Regions from separate parts of the Homo sapiens genome. Here all the other regions are reported to be linked to region 1. The links are microRNA targets in miRTarBase. Many come from high-throughput screens and were not tested one by one. Region 1 holds a microRNA gene; each other region holds the end of a gene's coding sequence.
The links. The annotated mature microRNA hsa-miR-1255b-5p reads CGGAUGAGCAAAGAAAGUGGUU and lies in region 1 at 2,282-2,303, opposite strand. An mRNA with a match to its seed (bases 2 to 7 or 8) in the 3' UTR can be bound and repressed. Matches are read on the target gene's strand: a 7mer-m8 pairs with bases 2 to 8, a 7mer-A1 pairs with bases 2 to 7 and ends in A, and an 8mer does both.

Region 2: the mRNA of CAPN6 is a reported target of hsa-miR-1255b-5p. Seed matches in the 3' UTR shown: 7mer-A1 at 1,898-1,904.
Region 3: miRTarBase lists KCTD5 as a target of hsa-miR-1255b-5p. Seed matches in the 3' UTR shown: 7mer-m8 at 1,193-1,199.

Annotation. Positions count from the first base shown.
Region 1 is chr4:36,424,124-36,427,378 of GRCh38, forward strand. It overlaps MIR1255B1 (microRNA 1255b-1), which reads right to left and starts at 2,305; the gene lies at 2,243-2,305.
Region 2 is chrX:111,243,771-111,247,025 of GRCh38, forward strand. It overlaps CAPN6 (calpain 6), which reads right to left. Exons shown (of 13, transcript NM_014289.4): 13 at 1,329-2,989. The coding sequence ends at 2,807. Among named protein-coding and RNA genes, the nearest start is that of CAPN6, 25 kb to the right of the region's middle. RefSeq lists an enhancer at 2,470-3,255.
Region 3 is chr16:2,706,558-2,709,812 of GRCh38, reverse strand. KCTD5 (potassium channel tetramerization domain containing 5) reads right to left here. Exons shown (of 6, transcript NM_018992.4): 6 at 783-2,515. The coding sequence ends at 2,486. Among named protein-coding and RNA genes, the nearest start is that of PRSS27, 12 kb to the left of the region's middle.

The sequences.
Region 1 (3,255 bases):
AATTTCCTTCCCCCTCTGAAACACAAGAATTCTTGAAACATCCATCCCCACAGTGAAGAAGGCATTTCAGAGGCAGACATTCCCAGAACTTTTAAGGATTTGGAAAAGAGCTACACTTCCAGCATTCACACAGATTGTGCAAACAGCAAATAGAAATAGAAATAGAAATAGAAATAGTTAAAGGTTAAAAAGAAGTATTTGATGAAAATATGTACTTTATTTTACCAACAGAAGAAATTATAGGAGACCAAGCTGTATGAGCCTGACACAGGGACAATCATAGCCTGACACAGGGACAATCATTAGAACTGAAGACAAACAGAGAACAAACACATGAACAAAAGAAAGACAATAACAAGAAAGTGCATAGACCCAGAACAGAAACAATTGCTTAGTCACTCATGGCTATGGGTTTTATCAACTCCTTAGCAGAGAAAAAAAGGTTTTTTTTTTTAACTCAATTGGTGTATTGTTTTATAATCTGTTTAACATAGACATATTAAAGTTAGTTATTTCCTAAACTGAATGTGGTTTATTCTGTAGTGTGATTGCAATAATTGTCAATTAATCATTTTACTGTTAAAAATAATATCTAGATTGGTCTTGCAGTTTACTTGTGTCCTCACAAATGGAATCTGTTCTAGAATGCATGCCTGGATATGGCCTTCCACTGTTGTAGATGATACCCATTTTAAAAAAAGTAAAAAAGAGCAGAGATAATCATGACCTTTTTGAATGGTACTATTAGTATTAATATCATTGTTATTTAATACTTTTGAAAAATGCTAAGTGATGAATAACTTAAGACAGTCATCCAGTAGAGTGAAGAAAAATACCGGTTGACAAAATCATCAGGGAAAACGTTATCAACTTTCACAAACTAGTAATAGTAGGACCTAAGTGATTTTATATAAGCATATGAAGTATATATTGCATAAATAGACATTAGTACACATTAGTTTCTAGTTCAATATTAATTTCCTATATATTTTCTAAGTGACATGCAATCTCAATAATTTTTTTTATTGTTTTTCCCCTTACTTCCTTTTAGAATTATGCTGCTTGATTTTGGAAAGAATTGTGTTCTTATGCTTTGTTTAACTTTTGCTAAATTCTTTCCTAAAGAAATAATGGCCATTATATTACATGTCAAAAGACACGATAATCTTGCCATATTCCTAAAATGTTGCTAATTTTGCCAATTGGGCTGTAAAAATTCCATCTTCAAATGACATTGGAATTGATACAAGTAATGAGAAAATTTTGAAGAAAATTAGTTAATTTAAAACACTCTTTTATTAGTGCTTTCTGTGAGCATTTTTCAGAAAAATGAAAAACTTAAGTATCACTTCATCCAATTAATTTTTGCCATGTCAGTGAAAGAATACTCTTTTGAGATTATGAATTTGAAGATGTATGAAATTCAAAATTGTAAGTCCTTTTTGGTAGATTTTCCATTTGCAAATAATTTAAAATTTGTTTCCTAGGTGACAATTCTTCAAAAAGGAGTTCAGGTTGAAACCTTATTATAGAAACCATGACAGAGACACGGATTTATTACTGCAGGAGAAAAATAGGCTACCCAATTTACAAACAGGCTGTAGTTTTCTTCTGAGATTTAGGGATGCACTTGGGCTTTAATATGTTGTTTCAATTGAAATATCTTCTCTATTTCAAGCAGATAGGTAGGTGACTTTGATAAACAAGCATACCTTGAAGATATTTCAGGCTTGGTTTTAGACCAACACAAAACAAGGGAATATCACAGTAAAAAGGAAGTCACACAATTTTTTGTCAGTTTCCCAGTGCATATACAGGTTAGTTTATATACTGCAGTCTTATTAATTGTGCAATAGCATCATGTCTAAAAATGCACATAGCTTAGTTAAAAATACTGTGTTGCTATAAATCTCTAATGACCATATGAGCCTTCAGTAAGTAGCAATCTTTTTGCTGATGGACAATCTTGCCTCAGTGTTGATGGCTGCTGACTGATCATGGTGGTGGTTGCTGAAGGTTGATGTGGCTGTAGCAATTTCTTAAAGTAAAATAACAGTGAAGCTTGCCACATCAATGGACACTTTTGCAAAATATTTCTCTGTAGCACACAATGCTATTTGACAGCATTTGACCCAGAGTAGAACTTCTTTCTAAACGGGAGTCAGCCCTCTCAAACCCTGTTGCTGCTTTATCAGCTAAGTTTGTGTAATATTCTAAATTCTTTGTTGTCATTTCAACAATGTTCACAGCATCTTCACAAAGAGTAGATTCCATTTTAAGAAACCACTTTCTTTGCTCATCCGTAAGAAACAACTTCTCATCCCTTAAAGTTTCATCATGAGATTGCAGCAGTTCAGTCACATCCTCAGGGCCCTCTTATTCTAATTCTTTTGCCATTTCTACCACATCTTCAGTTATTTTCTCCACTGAAGTATTGAATATCTCAAAGTTATCTATGAGTGTTGGACTCCCCTTCTTCCAAACTCCTGGTAACTATGATAATTTGACCTCCTCCCATAAATTACAAATGTTCCTAATTTCATATAGAATGGTGAAACCTTTGCAGAAGATTTTTCAACCTACTTTGCCCAGATCCATGAGAGAAATCACTATCTCTATAAGCTATAGCCTTATGCAATGTAGTTACTAAATAACAAGGCTTGAAAGTTGAAAAATACTCCTTGATCTGTGGACTGCAGAATAGACGTTGTGTTAGCAGACACAAAAACAAAATGAATATCCTGAGCAGTTTAGGCCAAAATGTTGGATTATAAGCACGTCATGTGCACTGCCCTCGTGGAGAGGAAACAAAAGGGTTAGTGAACACTGACGCTGTGGGTCGACCATCTGAGAAACCACATTAGGATCCACAAGGCAGCAAGGGACCATGGAGAGCAGAGAAGAGTGAAACTGGACACTAGCCTGTCTGAGCTCAGCACAGAGCCAGGAAAATCTCTCCAACATGGGAAAGGGTGAATGAGTGAGACCCCTGGGGGGATTCATGATCTTCACAGTGACCTGAGCAAGACTGGGAATGGGAGACTTCTGCCCCCACCCTACATCTCCCCACCATCCTTCTAGCCTGAGGCAGAGAGCTACCCAGCACTTTGCAGGAGCAACTCTCCAGTCGAAGGGGACCTCTACAATCTTTGGGCCCCAGAGCAGACCAATACCAATATGGCAGCGCATCATCACCTTAGCCCCAGTAGAAGTCATAGTTATGGTGTCTGGGAGCAGTAAGATTGCTCCACTCCC
Region 2 (3,255 bases), not on the chromosome of region 1:
GGTTCCATATGAAATTTGAAGTGTTTTTTTTCTAATTATGTGAAGAAAGTTCATGGTAGCTTGATGGGAATAGCATTCAGTCTATAAATTACTTCAGGCGGTATGGCCATTTTCACAATATTGATTCTTCCTATCCATGAGCATGGCTTTATTTTGCATTTGTTTGTGTCCTCTCTTATTTCCTTGAGCAGTGGTTTGTAGTTCTCCTTAAAGAGGTCCTTCACGTCTCTTGTAAGTTATATTCCTGGGTATTTTATTCTCTTTGTAGCAATTGTGAATGGGAGTTCACTTATTATTTGGCTCTTTGCTTGTCTGTTATTGGTGTATAGGAGTGCTTTGTGATTTTTGCACACTGATTTTGTATCCTGAGACTTTGCTGAAGTTGCTTATCAGCTTAAGGAGATTTTAAGCTGAGACTATGGGGTTTTCTAAATATACAATCATGTCATCTGCAAACAGAGACAATTTGACATCCTCTCTTCCTGTTTGAATACCCTTTATTTCTTTCTCTTGCCTGATTGTCCCGGCCAGAACTTCCAATACTATGTTGAATATGAGTGGTGAAAGAGGGCATTCTACCCTTTTTTGTCTGGGGAAAAATTGTCATCCTTGGGGGGAAAAAAAAGCAGTAGCATCTTTGAGCTTAATTGTAATACCATAGTGCCATCTGGTGACCATATGGAATGACTGCATTATCCACATGGGATATTTCATGTCTAACAAAAATCTACAACATGTAAATCTCTAGTGTGTTCTGGGTTAGTGTTATAGGGACAGACAGTGAGGGCTGTACTTGAGAACTGTTCTCCTGAGCTACTCCTTTGGAGATCCCTCCCCTGGTTAGGCACTTTTTCATGTCAGAAAGAAAAATAAGAATTTTCCCCTTTGCCTACCCTAAGATGGTAGATGGCAGGTTGTATAAGCAAATGAGTGAAGTCTTCACACATCCCTTCGGCTCTAAGGAAGATGCTGGGAAAGGGGAGTTGGTATTTTGTCTTGTTGAGAGATCTTCCCTTGAAAGATTTGGCTACTGTACCTATGGCCTCGAGTCCAATCCCAAATAGGAGTTTCAAACTCAAGTAACCCCGAATAGCACCTAGCTGTCCCTAAATATGAAATAAAGGCCCCTCTTCATTCTTCCAACTACCCCAGAATGCAAAGAACTGTACCATCAGAGTGTAGCCAGGGCTTTTGAATCCATCACACTTTTACCTGAGCTCAGATTTCATGAAGTACCTCAACCCCCACCTCCAGTGGCTTTGAAACAAGTCTTAACAGATGGTCACTCTTGCCATCCATCCCATGCCATCAATTCAAGTCAAGACTGATCAATGTACTGAATATGAACTTTATTGTGATTTGGTTTATGTAAGGCAGTGTAGTGAAGGCACTGCAGAAGTTAAACAGACTGGAAAACATGGTAAAAAATGAGCGAGCTAAAAATGAATGCTTGCTGGTCTAGGTAGGCTAAGTACTACAACTATGTTTCTTTTTCATCATTGCAGAAGCGTTGAAATATTGTTGAAGGTGGGGGTTTGGGGTGGAATTAGGGAAGGCTTCATGGAGGAGGTGGCATTTATACTGGGCCTTGAAGGAGGGGCAGAAAGTTGATAGGTTAAGATGGAGGGAAGTACATTTCATAATGACTGACTCTAGAGAAAATTCTGTAGAAGTACTGAAAAATGAGAGGGCAAACAAACACCCCCAGCGAGTGAAGCATCCCAACTGAGAGAAAAGTCTGAGGAGTCTGGGCTGGGACCAAAGTCTCAAGTCCCCAGATGGGGTCTTCAGTACAAATGATATTAGGAGGCACAGGACAATGGGCTTGTTTGTAAACCTAGCAGCAGCGAGAGGTTTCACATTGCAGTCAGGGGCCCCAAACTGGCTGTAATATGTCTGGATGAATTCTCTCATCTTTTAGGTGTGTATGGTACTTACTTATCTTTCCTCTTGCCCACTGACTGCCTGAATGGTAGTTCGTGCGCGCCCATGTGCGCGTGTGTGAGTGTAGGTGTGTGTGGATGGGTGGGGGACCGAGGCTTTGTCTCCCACTGCAGCTTCTTCCACTTTTCCGTCTTGTGGCACACAGCAGGCTTCCATTGAGCTGAAGCTCAGGCCCCTCTCACTGTCTAGGACTCATTGAACTCCAGCTCTTGATTAAGCACCAGGAAGCTTTCTCAACATGAAGGTAAAATTTACTGTCGGGGGTGACTTGGGTTAGGGCAGGACTACACTTTCCGGAGGTGATGATGGTGGTGAGTGGTGGTGGTGGTGGTGGTCGTGGTTGGTGGTGGTGGCAGTGGTGTCTGTAAGGGTTGGGGACTTAAAGCCGGCTCTGGCTGCTGGGTGAAATGCTGCTGGGAAGTCTATAGTGTTCAGTCAGGAGCTAGGATGTCAGGCTAGACCAGCTTGGCCTTGATCAGCCCTCCTCCTTCCTCAACATGCCCTACAGGGGAGATATATCAAACAACTGAAAACATCAAAGACATCTGTAGGGTGTCCAGCCTCTTGTTATTGTCCTACTTGAATCTCACCCCCGGAAGCCCCAGAGATCCTTTCTTGGCAAATGTGTATGATGTCTAGATAGGACTGTCGCCTCCCCATGTCCAGCTGCTGGAGGTATATAGGTTATGTAGCTACAGATGCTACTTGGATTGGGAGGTATGGGGAATTTATCAGAAGAGAGGAAGAGTTAATTATTGTGAATCTCATTCTTTCTAAAGATTGTGAATCTTAACTAAGACCTGGCACCTGACGGAAAATAAAAGGGTGGCACGCTTTGTCAGGATTCTCTGGGATTGCAGATTTAGAGCTCAGTGAGATCATCGCTGGAAATAACCTTGAAGCTGATGTGGCCTTGCTTGACTTTGGCAGTTGGACCACCCTTCTTACGCAGGTACAGAGACTTCAGATCACGGCAGTCGCTGGGGTCAGCATCCAGAGTAACCTGCCCCAAGAACTGATCACAGAATTTTCGGCTGTTCCAGACCTGGAAAGACAAACGAAGGGAGTGAAGATGAGCAGCCCTCAGTGAGATTAGCCTTTGCCCAGTGACATCCAGATCTAATGCTGAGCTTCAAAAGATTTGTTTTAAAACCAAGAGACTATTCTGTCCTTTCCTGATAGCCCATCAGTTGAGGGGAGGATACCTCAAAGAATATACATGAAAAGCCAGAAAACAGAATCTCCGGGTCGTTCTTGACCTGTGGGATGGTTACCTAAAGGCTGCTGGTCAGGAGTATTAAGTCAGAAAAA
Region 3 (3,255 bases), not on the chromosome of region 1:
CCACTCCACCCCTCACCAGGGCCCTGGGGTCAGGCTGGGCCAGCCACACACCTGGAAACAGGATGGACAAGGCCACTACAGCCTGAGGCTCTGTGACCTCAGACAGCCAGGCCCTGGGGGACACCGTGAATGGGAATCTCCCTGCGGGGGGGCGGGGAGTCCAACAGCCAAGGCTTCGTGGAGCAGCCACCAGGAGGAGTCACAGCAGCTGGCGAGGGGGTGCCGGGACCCCAGGACCTTCTCGGGAAGCTCCTGCTGTCACAACCCAGGCTGCAGGCTAAAGTGAGGGAAGAGAGGTGGATGCTAACTTGAGGTATCAGGACTTTCAAAAAAACATCACTTGAGCCGCGCGCAATGGCTCACGCCTGTAATCCCAACTGCTCAGGAGGCTGAGGCAGGAGGATCACTTGAGCCCAGCAGTTCAAGACCAGCCTGGGCAACATAGCAAGACCCCTGTCTCTTAAGGAAAAAAAAAGGCCCTTGTACATGGTCTCCGGTCTCCCGGGATGGGGGTATGCTATCTGCTGGAGGTAGGTGAGGGGTCCAGGCAGAGTGGGGTGCAGGGATGGGCCGTGCAGCTCTGATCCAGTGACCCTGGCCAAGCCGGCACCCCGTGGATGGCCCAGCTCCGCCCTGGCCATCGACTGAGAGGCAGAGGCAGAGCCCTGAGTGAGCCGCCGCGGCCAGTGGGGCTGGGCGGCTTGGAGGGGCAGCACCTTGGTCCGAGCGACCCGGGGTGGCATTCCCCTGCATCTTAAGACCATAAACAGCTACTACGCGCATTCATAAATACACAATTTTATTTGCTATTTCCAGGGGAAACTTAGGCATTAAACTGTAAGCTGATAAAATACGATACCTAAAAAAGTATAAAAGTATAAATATCCCCTTAGAATAAATTTTAGTGAATTAAGTCTTAATATCTTTAAATTAAAAAAACCACAAGCCTATCTACTATGTCAAGGTCAAAAATCAAACAACGCTAAGCGGCCAGCAGCTCCCCAGAGAGGATGCCCAGGAGCCCCAGCGGCCGCCTTCCTCCCAGGCTCTGCTGGGGCTAAGTCTGCCTTCTAGAAAGGCTTTTATAAATTGTTTAAGCCAAACATTTAACAACATACAAGAGACCTTACAAAAAGAAGGAGGTAAGTCCTAATGCTGGAGAATTGGTTAATCAGGTGACTGGCAAAGAGGAGGATGAGGCCTAGGCAGGAAGTCTCCAGAAGCATTGGAAACCAGACAGTGTCAGAGCCTCTGACCTGCAGGCGGGAGGCCGGTGGTCAGTCTGCACAGTACCCCTTGGGAAGCCGGAGTTCCGGAAGCAAAGCGCTTGGAGCCCGCCCTGCACGCCGAGTCCCCAGACTCTGACAGGTCCCCACAGCCAGCTGAGAAAGGTCTGTTTTCAAAGCATGCGGGCAGCGGTTTCTAAAGGAATCCCAGCAGCTCCCACGGCATGTCGGGCAGAGCCCGTGCAGGTCGAGTGAAGTCCCAAACATCCCAGAAAGAGAGGGAAGGCTGCATAGTTATACAAAGAAAATGAGAGAGCGGCGAGAGAGAGGCATTTGTGATGCTCTGTAAACATCCCGAATTTTCACCGTGACGCAGACCTTCAGCTCCAGAAGCCAGTGGACAGGCCTCCAGCCCAACCTCTATGCCAGGCGTGACAAGGCACTGACAGACGCCAGCTCCCCGTGAGCCCGCAGTGGGAGGGGCGAGGCGACACTGCTACCTCGCGCTAACGGATGGAACAGATCAGTCTCCACGCGGCAAGCCCTGTGGGCATTTCCAGAGGAAAAACGCTGGGGAGTCTATCCACACAGAGAAGGGGTACAAAGTTCTCTTGCCTGGAAAATACAAATTGAGAAGCCTTGACTGTCCCGGGCTTGGTCAGGTGGGGTTGGAGCCCGTGTCAGAAGAAGGCCCGGCCTCGGAATGGCGCCGGGAAGCAGTGACGACGCAGAAGCCGCCTTTGTCAGGAGCTCTGCGAGGTCGAGAGAAACCAGCGATCCCGCCTGGGAGGCAGAGCAGACTCCCTGACCGAGACTAGGGCCTGGTGGTCGGACCAGAGGCCACGACGTGCTGGACACTGACGCGGCTGCGGCCGCTTCCTGCCAGTGAAGCCCAGGCTGCTTTTCCAGACTGTGTGTAGCACCAAGAACGCTTCCTTCACACGATCTTCAGGATCGAGCGGGCTGACTGGGAGTGTCTGCCTCAGTCCCACGTGGCACTTGGAAAAAACAGAGCGAGGCCCCCCCAAGAGGCAGCGCCCACCCGGCCGCCGTGCTCCCCCAACTTGGGGACGTCTGGCCTTGGACAGCTGGGCCCGTCTCTCACCACCCACCTCAGAGGCAAAAAAGGATTCACACCCAGATCTCTAGAAAAATGATCAAAAGCAGGTTTCTTCTCACAGCCAAGCTTCCTGGACATGGCAGTTCATTACATCTCGGGAAAACGTAAATCATTTCTTCAGCTGTCAATACTGTGTCCCTCACATCCTTGAGCCTCGTTCTTGCAAAATCTGAAAAACACCAAATGCATAAAATGAGGACTTGGGCTGAGGAGGTGTCCCTGACCAGGCGCCTGCTCCAGAAAACAGAGCCCACAGGCCTGGGGTTAGCTCGGGGAGCCCCGGGAACCCAGCGGCACTGGCCAGGGTCTTGGGGACTCAGCTGGCAGGCCCAGGACCTTCACCGGGGTGTCTGGCACATCTCCAGGCCCCACACAGGGAGCGCTCACTGTGCATGGCAGCCCCTCCCAGACCCACCCAAAGGCGCTGACTCTTGGGCCTCTCAGCCCACTCAGTCCTGGGCCTCAGACATGAAGCGCAACTCGGCCCGCGGGTCCCTCAGCAGTCCAGTCCCCCCTCCCCAATTAAGTCTCTCCCTCTGTTCCTCCATGCCCACTGCAGCCCCCACCCCCACCCCGACGCCCGGACCCTCCTGGAGATGCCCCTCACCCAAGCCCTCGGCCCTGCACCTCAGCCTGGCCAGCCCACCTCATGTGCTGGCCCCTCCCGACTGCCCCATGGAACAACCACCAGCCCTCAGAGGGCCCTACCCCAAGTGCAGATCACGCTGCGGGGATCCCCTCCTCATCTGTACCACGTCAGCCCTGCAGAGCCCACGGCCCCTCGGCCCCCTGCCCTCCCCACCCTCCAATCTCCTCAAAACTCTTCCTCAAGGTACCCTCCCCACTTCCCTCACCAGTGTCCAGGAACCCCCTGAGGCCACCCCCAAGTCGGCCTGGGCTCCCCTGAGG